2 separate regions of the Homo sapiens genome follow, and region 1 is linked to region 2. Evidence: fine-mapped expression QTL. A gene starts in region 2. The other region holds a variant in brackets. All regions are shown on one strand. Distances are between the middles of the regions.

Evidence for each region. PIP is the estimated chance that this variant, and not a neighbour inherited with it, causes the effect.
Region 1: its variant is fine-mapped to the expression of PRUNE2 in whole blood (INTERVAL, PIP above 0.99).

Annotation. Positions count from the first base shown.
Region 1 is chr9:76,700,910-76,706,289 of GRCh38, reverse strand. PRUNE2 (prune homolog 2 with BCH domain) reads left to right here. Exons shown (of 19, transcript NM_015225.3): 8 at 1-1,529; 9 at 2,191-2,953. Among named protein-coding and RNA genes, the nearest start is that of PCA3, 61 kb to the left of the region's middle. The variant T/G (reference allele first, on the strand shown) is at 2,156.
Region 2 is chr9:76,903,468-76,908,847 of GRCh38, reverse strand. It overlaps PRUNE2 (prune homolog 2 with BCH domain), which reads left to right and starts at 2,734. Exons shown (of 19, transcript NM_015225.3): 1 at 2,734-2,920. The coding sequence starts at 2,885. RefSeq lists a silencer at 2,605-2,664.

The sequences.
Region 1 (5,380 bases), 200 kb after region 2:
AAATCAGTGGGAACAAGAAAAATCATACCTAGGTGAGATGACAAATTCAAGCATTGCCACAGAAAATTTTCCTGCTGTCAGTTCTCCCACCCAACTGATAATGAAGCCAGGCTCTGAATGGGATGGCTCTACCCCAAGTGAGGACTCCCGAGGTACCTTTGTGCCAGATATTTTACATGGCAACTTTCAAGAGGGTGGGCAGCTGGCCTCTGCCGCGCCTGACTTGTGGATAGATGCTAAGAAGCCCTTCAGTTTGAAAGCAGATGGTGAGAATCCTGATATCCTGACGCACTGCGAACATGACAGCAATTCTCAGGCTTCCGACAGCCCTGATATATGTCACGATTCTGAAGCAAAGCAAGAGACTGAGAAGCACCTCAGTGCTTGCATGGGACCTGAAGTGGAATCCAGTGAGCTTTGTCTCACTGAGCCAGAGATAGATGAAGAACCCATTTATGAGCCTGGACGGGAGTTTGTCCCATCCAATGCAGAACTCGATTCTGAAAACGCAACTGTGCTGCCTCCAATTGGCTATCAAGCAGACATAAAGGGCTCCTCTCAGCCCGCCTCTCATAAAGGTTCACCTGAACCTTCTGAAATAAACGGTGACAACAGTACAGGTTTACAAGTATCAGAAAAAGGAGCCAGCCCAGATATGGCACCAATTTTGGAACCAGTTGACAGAAGAATCCCAAGGATTGAAAATGTGGCAACTAGCATTTTTGTAACTCACCAAGAGCCAACTCCAGAAGGTGACGGTTCTTGGATATCAGACAGCTTTTCTCCTGAAAGTCAGCCTGGTGCAAGAGCTTTGTTTGATGGTGATCCACATTTATCCACAGAGAATCCTGCCTTGGTTCCTGATGCTTTGCTAGCCTCAGACACTTGTCTGGATATAAGCGAAGCTGCCTTTGACCACAGTTTCAGCGATGCCTCAGGTCTCAACACATCCACGGGAACAATAGATGACATGAGTAAACTGACATTATCCGAAGGCCATCCGGAAACGCCAGTTGATGGGGACCTAGGGAAGCAAGATATCTGCTCATCTGAAGCCTCGTGGGGTGATTTTGAATATGATGTAATGGGCCAGAATATCGATGAAGATTTACTGAGAGAGCCTGAACACTTCCTGTATGGTGGTGACCCTCCTTTGGAGGAAGATTCTCTGAAGCAGTCGCTGGCACCGTACACACCTCCCTTTGATTTGTCTTATCTCACAGAACCTGCCCAGAGTGCTGAAACAATAGAGGAAGCTGGGTCTCCAGAGGATGAATCTCTGGGATGCAGAGCAGCAGAGATAGTGCTTTCTGCACTTCCTGATCGAAGAAGTGAGGGAAACCAGGCTGAGACCAAAAACAGACTGCCTGGATCCCAGCTGGCTGTGCTGCATATTCGTGAAGACCCTGAGTCCGTTTATTTGCCGGTAGGAGCAGGCTCCAACATTTTGTCTCCATCAAACGTTGACTGGGAAGTAGAAACAGATAATTCTGATTTACCAGCAGGTGGAGACATAGGACCACCAAATGGTAAGAAACATTCCATTCTTCCACTTCCAAGAAACTGCTGCGTTGATTAAACTAGTGCATATTTGTAAGACACACTCTTCCTACCAATGAGGGTAGAGAGAAAACTAACTACATTTTCAAGGCATGCCTCACTAAGTCCTGTATTATAACAGCAGTAAAATCTAGTGCATATGTAATACCTATTCCTGATAGTGCACGAGAAAATCGAATGACTCTACAAAATAAAAATATTTTCTAGCTGGGCGCGGTGGCTCACGCCTGTAATCTCAGCACTTTGGGAGGCCAAGGAGGGGGGATCACCTGATGTCAGGTGTTCGAGACCAGCCTGGGCAGCATGGTGAAACCCCATGTCTACTAAAAATACAAAAATTAGCTGGGCGTGGGGGCAGGTGCCTGTAGTCCCAGCTACTCGGGAGGCTGAGGCAGAAGAATAGCTTGAAACCAGGAGGTGGAGGTTGCAGTGAGCCGAGATCACACCATTGCACTCTATCCTGGGTGACAGAGCGGGACTCTGTCTCAAATGAATGAATGAATAAATAAATAAAATATATAAAAAATATTAAATTACCTCTTTTAGATGATCATTTGCAAGGATCACAAATCACACAATGTGTTAATTAAACCTT[T/G]TTCTCCTCTTCTCACTTTCAACTTCCACTTCTAGGTGCCAGCAAGGAAATATCAGAATTGGAAGAAGAAAAAACAATTCCTACCAAAGAGCCTGAGCAGATAAAATCAGAATACAAGGAAGAAAGATGTACAGAGAAGAATGAAGATCGTCATGCACTACACATGGATTACATACTTGTAAACCGTGAAGAAAATTCACACTCAAAGCCAGAGACCTGTGAAGAAAGAGAAAGCATAGCTGAATTAGAATTGTATGTAGGTTCCAAAGAAACAGGGCTGCAGGGAACTCAGTTAGCAAGCTTCCCAGACACATGTCAGCCAGCCTCCTTAAATGAAAGAAAAGGTCTCTCTGCAGAGAAAATGTCTTCTAAAAGCGATACGAGATCATCTTTTGAAAGCCCTGCACAAGACCAGAGTTGGATGTTCTTGGGCCATAGTGAGGTTGGTGATCCATCACTGGATGCCAGGGACTCAGGGCCTGGGTGGTCTGGCAAGACTGTGGAGCCGTTCTCTGAACTCGGCTTGGGTGAGGGTCCCCAGCTGCAGATTCTGGAAGAAATGAAGCCTCTAGAATCTTTGGCACTAGAGGAAGCCTCTGGTCCAGTCAGCCAATCACAGAAGAGTAAGAGCCGAGGCAGGGCTGGCCCGGATGCAGTTACGTTGCAGGCTGTCACCCATGACAATGAATGGGAAATGCTTTCACCACAGCCTGTTCAGAAAAACATGATCCCTGACACGGAAATGGAGGAGGAGACAGAGTTCCTTGAGCTCGGAACCAGGATATCAAGACCAAATGGGTAAGCAAAAAGCTAGATTTATTTTTTTTCCTGAAAAGCAATTTATTTAGAAACCTGGGAAATGGTTAGAGGTTATGGAATATGAGGAATACCTGGATGATAGCAGCTTTGCTTATATTGAATGCAAGGCACACCATCAGTAAAAGCAGCTACTAGATAACTATAACCATAATGATAATTTATGTACATTTTCAGCCAAAAAGCCCCTTCAATTTTCATTCAGTCTTATACCTACCCCCCAACTGCCACCCCACCTACTTGAATACCTACATGACTCTTCAACAGGCAGTTGGGAATACAAGGAAGTGACACTAACATTTAATCAGCACCTACTATGTGCAAGGCAGTTTGCATACATTATCTCATTTAATCCTAACATGCCAGTGGGGGGAATGGAAGGAGTAGGGTTGAGTAGGGGGATTCAAGGCTCAGAAATTTTCTATAATTTGCCTAGAATTAAGTAACCAGAGTGAACACCTGGGATTCGAAGCTTGCCACCTCCAAAGCCTGTACTTTCTCAGTTGACACACCGCTTAGCATACAGAGGCATTTTCATATTTTCAAATACAAGGCATTTTCTGGTTTTATGTAAGCACCTAACTTATAGTTAGATAAGAGACAGGCTCCACAGCAGTCTCCAAATCTCAGTGTAACACATTCATTCCCTAATTGGCAGAGAAATTGGCAAACTGTCATTAAATCAGTGATTCATTCATTCATTCATTCACCATGTGGTTTTTGAGAGCTTGCTCTGTGCCGTGGTTCTGGGTAGCCAATGGGCATATATCAGGGAATAGGATGTCATCACTGCCCTCAAGCTTCCAGTCTCTGCTGAAACTGTTTAGCATTCTTCATTTCTCTTCATTTGTGTTTATGAAGCCCACCTGCTTCCAGGGACAAAAGAACAAATTGTGAAAAGTAACTTAAGTAACGGGGAAAGTCATGTTTTCTCCTTAAAATGTAATAGAGAAAAGATATCGGCCAGGTGCGGTGGTTCATACCTGTAATCCCAACACCTTGGGAGCCCAAGGTGAGTGGATCACTTGAGGTCAGGAGTTTGAAACCACCCTGGCTAACATGGTGAAACCCCGTCTCTACTAAAAATTCAAAACTTAGCTGGGGTGGTGGCAGCACCTGTAATCCCAGCTACTTGGGAGGCTGAGACAGGAGAATTGCTTGAACCTGGGAGGTGGAGGTTGCAGTGAGCCGAGATCGTGTGACTGCACTCCAGCCTGAGTGACAGAGCCAGACTCCGTCTCAAAAAAAAAAAAAAGCGAGAAAAGATATATTTTTGCTACTCAGCTTGGGAGTGTAAAGGACTATACACATCACATACCCACAGTGAGTCAAGGAATCTGGATTCCAGCCTGCCTCTACCATGACTGATTATACATTTTAGGATTAATCCCAGGCTTAGGTTTTCTCATGCGTAAAATTAGTGAGTTGGGCTGAAAGATCTCAAGGCTTCCTGCAGTATTAAATTCTGGGAACTTAATTTGTGTGGAAACAGAATGTGTCCAGGGGAGCTTTGGCATTCACAAATTACATTTCTTGATGAAAGGAACAAGGACAATGGAAAGAATAGCTGGGGTATGTTGAGGATTAGCCAAGTGCAGAAGGGGTTAAAAGCTCTACCATATTCCAGGGCAGCTTCATAAATCCAGACATTGTCAGCTGGCCTAATCCTTCTTTCTTCCTGTCAAGCTATTTTCTTCCAGAGAGACCCCAGATCCGTTATCAGAAAGAGAGTAGCAGATGGATCCCAGCAGCCCTGCTGGCATTGTTATAGATTGAGCTCAGAACTCAGGCAGCCATGAGTTGGCTGAGCTATTGTTTGGCTTCTTGTGTGCATTTTGCACATGCCCCGAGATCCAACAGATGACAGTCAGTGTTCAATTGTGCCACCAGCACCTTTTCTTTCAACAAGATTTCTTTGCTCATCCCTTTCTGCTCAGCTTTTGTAGTACTGAAACTTTTCTCACAATGGGGATGGGGCAGATTTTCCCTCCGGCATGTGTATTATCTTTTGCATAAATAATTTACTGTGAATGTGTAAGTCTCCCTCTGTGCTAGATTTTGGGAGAATAAAGAGTTGTCTAAAACTGTGGTTCTCTAAGTGGGGTCCTAAGAACAGCAGCATCAGTATCACCTGAGTACTTGTTAGAAATGCAAATTATCGGCTCCGACTCAGACCTCCGGAATCAGGAACTCTGGGGGTGAGGCCCAGCCAGCTGAGCTTCAGCAACTCCTGATGCCCTCCAAAGCTTGAGAACCACTGGTTTAAAACATACTGTCAGCCGTCTAGGAGTTTACAGTTTAACTAAAGAGTTAGACATAAGTAAAAAGGTAGATAGCAGTGTAATATTTAAGTCAAGCTAGTCAATGCCCAATGTCAGTTTAAGTATAAAATGGGTACTAACTACAGGC
Region 2 (5,380 bases):
TAATCCCAGCTACTCGAGAGGCTGAGGCAGGAGAATAGCTTGAACCCGGGAGGCAGGGGTTGCAGTGAACCCAGGTTGTGCCATTCCACTCCAGCCTGGGGTACTAGAGGGAAACTCCATCTCGAAAAAAAAGAAAGAAAGAAAGAAAGAAAAAAACAGATGGAGGAAGATGCCACAAGTCAAAAAACATGGGCAGCTTCTAGTCGATTGTCCCCTAGAGCCTCTAAAAAAGAATGTAGCTCTGTTGATACCTTGCTTGCCCAATGAGACCTGTGTAGGACTTTTGACCTACATAACTGTAAGGTAATACATTTATGTTGTTTCAAGCCACTGAATTTGTGAGATTCTGTTAAAACAGCCCCAGGAAGCTAATATAGGTGGTCAGCTTAGGAAGGTTTCATAGAAAATGTTAATTTTGATAAACTTTTGAAGGGACATTATTGGTGGAGAAAAAGATGGGGAGATTGATGTTGGAATTTGAGTCCATCAGAATTTTTTTTTAACATTTCAAGGATGTGTGATACCTACCTAGAATATTTATAAGCCAAAGCTAGAGGAATAAAACAGTATTATGTAATTGGTGCTAAATTCCCCAGTGAAGTCAGAGGCAAGGCATTCTCTAGAATTTTTCTCAGTAATGTTACTTGAATTGTGTGCAACTTCACAGATTTAAAGGCTGACAAAATACTTGCTTTACCTGGTTGGTTTTAAATTACTTAAGTCAGTACAGAAAGCAGACAGAATCTCCAGCTTCCACAAAGCCCACCCCTGAATGTCACCTGGAGCTTAATATTCTTATCACTCTCCTTTAATCAGATCTGTGGACCCTGCTGATTTGTTTTCATTGGATCCTTCTGAATAAAAAATAATTGGATCATGAGACACACATATACACACAGAGACAGACAAGAAAACAGACACACATTGAGACAGGAGAAATAGAGCAAAAAAAAAAAAAACCCTTCCATATGTACCTTTTTTCATTAAAACATATTTATTGAGGACCTGTATATGACATGAACATACATCATGTTAGGGTTCCATCAGTGAATGAGACAGGCAAGGTCCCTGTCTTTACAGAGCTCACAGCCTGGTGGAGGACATAGACAAATAATTATGCAATTTATAGCAGAGTGGAAAATGTAAGTTGCTATGAGGGAATACAGAAGGGGCAACCAACTCAGTCTGGGGATGGGAAGGGAAAAGTGTGTTGGGGAGGCTTTCTGGAGAAAGAGAACTTCTACGCCACTCACTGTCAAAGTGTGGTTTTTGGATCAGCAGCATCGGCAAACCCTGGGAGATTGTATACATGGACATTCTCAGGCCCATTAAGCCACACCTATTAGGGCTAAAATTCTAAGGATGGGGCACGGAAATCTGTGTTTCATCAAGCCCTCTAAGTGATTTAGATACATGTAAAGTTCATCGAGAATCAGAGCATCACACCTGAACTGCACATTAGAATCACTTGGGTCACTTTCCACAGAAATGCTGTGGCCCCATGCCCAGAGATATTAATTTAATTGGACTGGGATAAAGCCCTGGTATCAGTACTTTCTCAAGTCTCAGGTGATTACGATGTGATTTTACTGTGCAGTCAGGGTTGAGGCTACTTCTGTAGAACAGCTGAGGCTGGGGGCTAGGACAAGGGCTGGAAGGATCTTACAGGTGGTGTGCAAAAGCCCAGAGGTCAGAGAAAGCCTGATGTAGTGTGTTTGGGGACCGGACAAGGCTACATACAACAAAACCCCATGATTTAAAATAAGGTTTGTAGATATAAGTTCATTTGTTCATTGTAGTACTTCTTAAACTTTAACAAGCATAGAAATCATCTGAGGGTCTCATAGAAACACACAGATTCTGATTTGGTAAGTAGGAGCAGGGGACTGAGGTTCTGCATTTCTATAAGATCAGCGATGCTGATGTTGCCGGTCTGCAGACTGCACCTCACCTTAGCAAGGTTCTATTGCCCCAGCTTTCCCTGAGGGTACATGTCAGTGGATGGGAACTGCAGAAGGATGTATCTATGCATTAGTCCCAGGGCTGACATAAGGGCACCTAGTTGGGGTGAACTGTGGATGCCCATTGTTGTGTGGACATGTTTTCATGGTAGGGAGGAAAGACGCAGCCTCGCCCAACCTCCTAGCCTGCTCTTCTGATTATTATCCATCAAGGTCGTACTGCTTTTAGCTCAGCAGTAACTCCCCTCTTTCTCTCCTCGTCCCTCCCACGCCAATCTAGCTGAGTGCCTCCCCCGGCCAGGCCAGCCGACCAGATCATTAAGTGACCGCCGGAGTGCTCCGTAACGCGCCAGCCAGCCAGTGAGGCGCTGGGCGAGGCGGGGGCTCTCCTGGGACCCGTCTCCCTCTTCCCACCTTCCCCCGCTGACCGCGGCGGTGCCTGCGGCAGAGCCTCCCTCTGCAGCAGCCCCTTGCACTTGGCTCGCACTTCTGGGCGCTGTCCATGGTTGCAGCAGCTTTCGGCGCGCCACGTCAGGAGGCCGCAGCACGGCCCTGCGATTGGCGGAGGAGCCCCTCGCCATACCCCTGCACCTCCGCCCACGCGCCACGGCGCCCGAGGCGCGTGCCAGAGAGCGTGCCCGGCGCGCCCCGGGGCTCCTGGGCGGCACACCCACTTTCCTTATTAGGGCAGAGTCGGGTGCCCAGAGCCGGCGGCCGGGCGAGGGGTGGGGCGGGGAGCCCTGGGCGAGACGGTCGAGGGCGCAAGCACAGCCTCCGCCGCAGCCGCCTCAGAGCGGCAGGAGGGAGCAGTCGGTCGCTGCGCCCCGGCGGGCCACTTTCCCGGGACCCCGCTCGTCTTCCTTGGGCCGAGATTTTCCACTGCGCCCCTCCGAGTACCCGGGTTCCAAACCCCTAGCCACGACATGGAAGAATTTTTGCAACGCGCCAAATCTAAACTGGTAAGTTGAGTGAGCAAAGCTGTGTGTGTGCGCGCGCGCGTATGCTAATGGAAAGGTGGAGAGGAAAAGGTGTTGCAGCAGAGGAGGAAGAAACAACTTTGCCACGGAGTTATCAGGGTGTGCGGGTTGTCTCCTGGAAGAAATCTCAGGAACTCTGGCTCTTAAAGCTGGCAATCTGTCTCCAGAATCCTCCACCGCAACCAGACGAGGTGCAGAGCTGAAGGAGGTTGTGGCCTGGCTGAAGTTGGGTCGCTTCAGTCCAGCTTCGGTCCCTAAATCAGCAGTTTGCTCCTGAAAGCTAAGGGATAAATGGGTGTGGTCTTCCTTGAGATAAAGAGCCCAGCCTTCTGCAGATGCATTACGTGTAAGTGTAAAAGGAAAAAAAGAGACCCTTAGAACTGTACTTCAGCTGGAGGTGACAAAAGTGAGGAAGTCAGGGTGCTGGGTAGCAAGGACATGTGTGGTACTGGAGAATCCACAGAATAGAGCTTGCTCCACTGCAGGAGTTAGGGATATTCTAGTGTGTCTTGTGTCTCGCTAATTCCTGTTCACATCTGTAAATTGGGGCGGAGGCAGAAGGGGAAAGCTCTAACTGTTGGTGTTCTGGAGTTTACCAGATCATCGTTCTCCCGGGAGCAGACCTGTGTGTTAGCCCATGTTTACCATATCACTGTCCAAACAGTGAATGGGCAACTCCACTGTGTATGTTAACAGTTGCTACACATTCTGAAACAACAGACTCTAGCAGTTTCTTAATTCCAAACTGTTTTGGCTCTCCAGCACAGCAGTAATAAACATAATGGAAATGTTTCTGTTTTGGCAGAAAAAAAAAGAAAAGCCTGTACTCATTTAGAAGCAATATCTTTAAAGAACTGTAAAAGCACCTTTTACAGGCCTGGCATAGAAAGAAATGCATAATTTATGATGCCTTTAACCTTTAAGCCTTCATAGAAGCCAAAATGTAAAGTCTGCATTAAGGTAATGTTTTAATCACAAGGCAGGATATTTGCAGGGTTATTACTGTAACTCATTTACCCTCGCACAACAAAGGGAGTGCAGGAAGGGAGGGCCCAAAGATGCCTGAACCACCATTCAGAGTGCAGACGGAAGTGTGATCCTTACAATGGTCTAACTGTAACTATCTTGTAAAAGACCATTAAAGTTGATAAGTGCTTATATAAAACTTTCTACCTGAAACCTCCCAGAGAGTTGAACGTTTGTGGAGATTTCCGAGTTGAGGAAGTTTGTGATCATCTCTGTGTTTATTGACCCTTTTATAGTTTTACTAGAGCACATGGATGAAAATACTAATTTCAGAAACTCAAGTAAGTATTTGGCATTTCTGATAGTATAAGTACATGTTCTGTTCTTTACCTAGTAATGAAGGAGAAATGTTCAAAAATGAAAGACAATTTTGGCAACTGTGCGTGTGTGTGTATGAAAATGGTAATCAATGACAAACACAGAGTTCTGGGCTGTATCTGTTTTTCACTCCCATAACATTTATTTATCAATATTTTCACAATAAACATTTAGACTGTGGGGTCTGATATGAGCAAGAGGTTTGTCTCAATTCTGAGGAGCAGTTGCTGGAATGGAAGTTTCCCTATTTCCGAGTAATGAGTTGAAAGTAATCTGTAATTTATTTACCCTTCATTAGACGAGCAATTGCTCTACATCATTAAAAAAAAAAGGACAGGAAAGAGAAGCGGTTGTTTGAAATATTGTTACCAGTTTCATGTCTTAGCCAGAACAATTACTGCTAATTTTATCGTTTCTTGGAATAAGCTTCTTCTAGAAATCATGATTAACCTTTCACATCCAGCCACAGCAAAGGTGTGTTGGTCACTTTTAGTGTCATATTTTCCTGAGAAGTTACATTTTCTAGGTAATAAGATTTTTACTTAATGTATGACACTCAAATATAGTAGTAGATAACATTCTCCTTTAGAGGGTAGATAACCTTTTTCTTGGAGAAAAAGAATTAAGTCAATGTCATTCACTTGTGGGAAATTTATTTATAATAAAAAGGTAAGATTTGGCCGGGTGTGGTGGCTCACGCCTGTAATCCCAGCACTTTGGGAGGCTGAGGCGGGTGGATCACCTGAGGTCAGGAGTTCGAAACCAGCCTGGCCAACATGGTGAAACCTCATCTCTACTAAAAGTACAAAAGTTAGCCAGGCATGGTGGCGTGTGCCTGTAATCCCAGCTACTAGGGGGGCAGAGGCAGGAGAATCACTTGAACCTCGGAGGCGGAGGTTGCAGTGAGTCGAGATTGTGCCACTGCACTCCAGCCTGGGCAACAGAGCGAGACTCAGTCTCAAAAATAAAATAAAATAAAATAAAATAGTAAGATTTTTAAAAATTCAGCCAATCCTTTGGAAAACATTTTAAGGTGAAGAAATTTACCATGCTGATTTTTACTTAAGCCTTATTAGACCAGAATTAGAATGTAGGAGC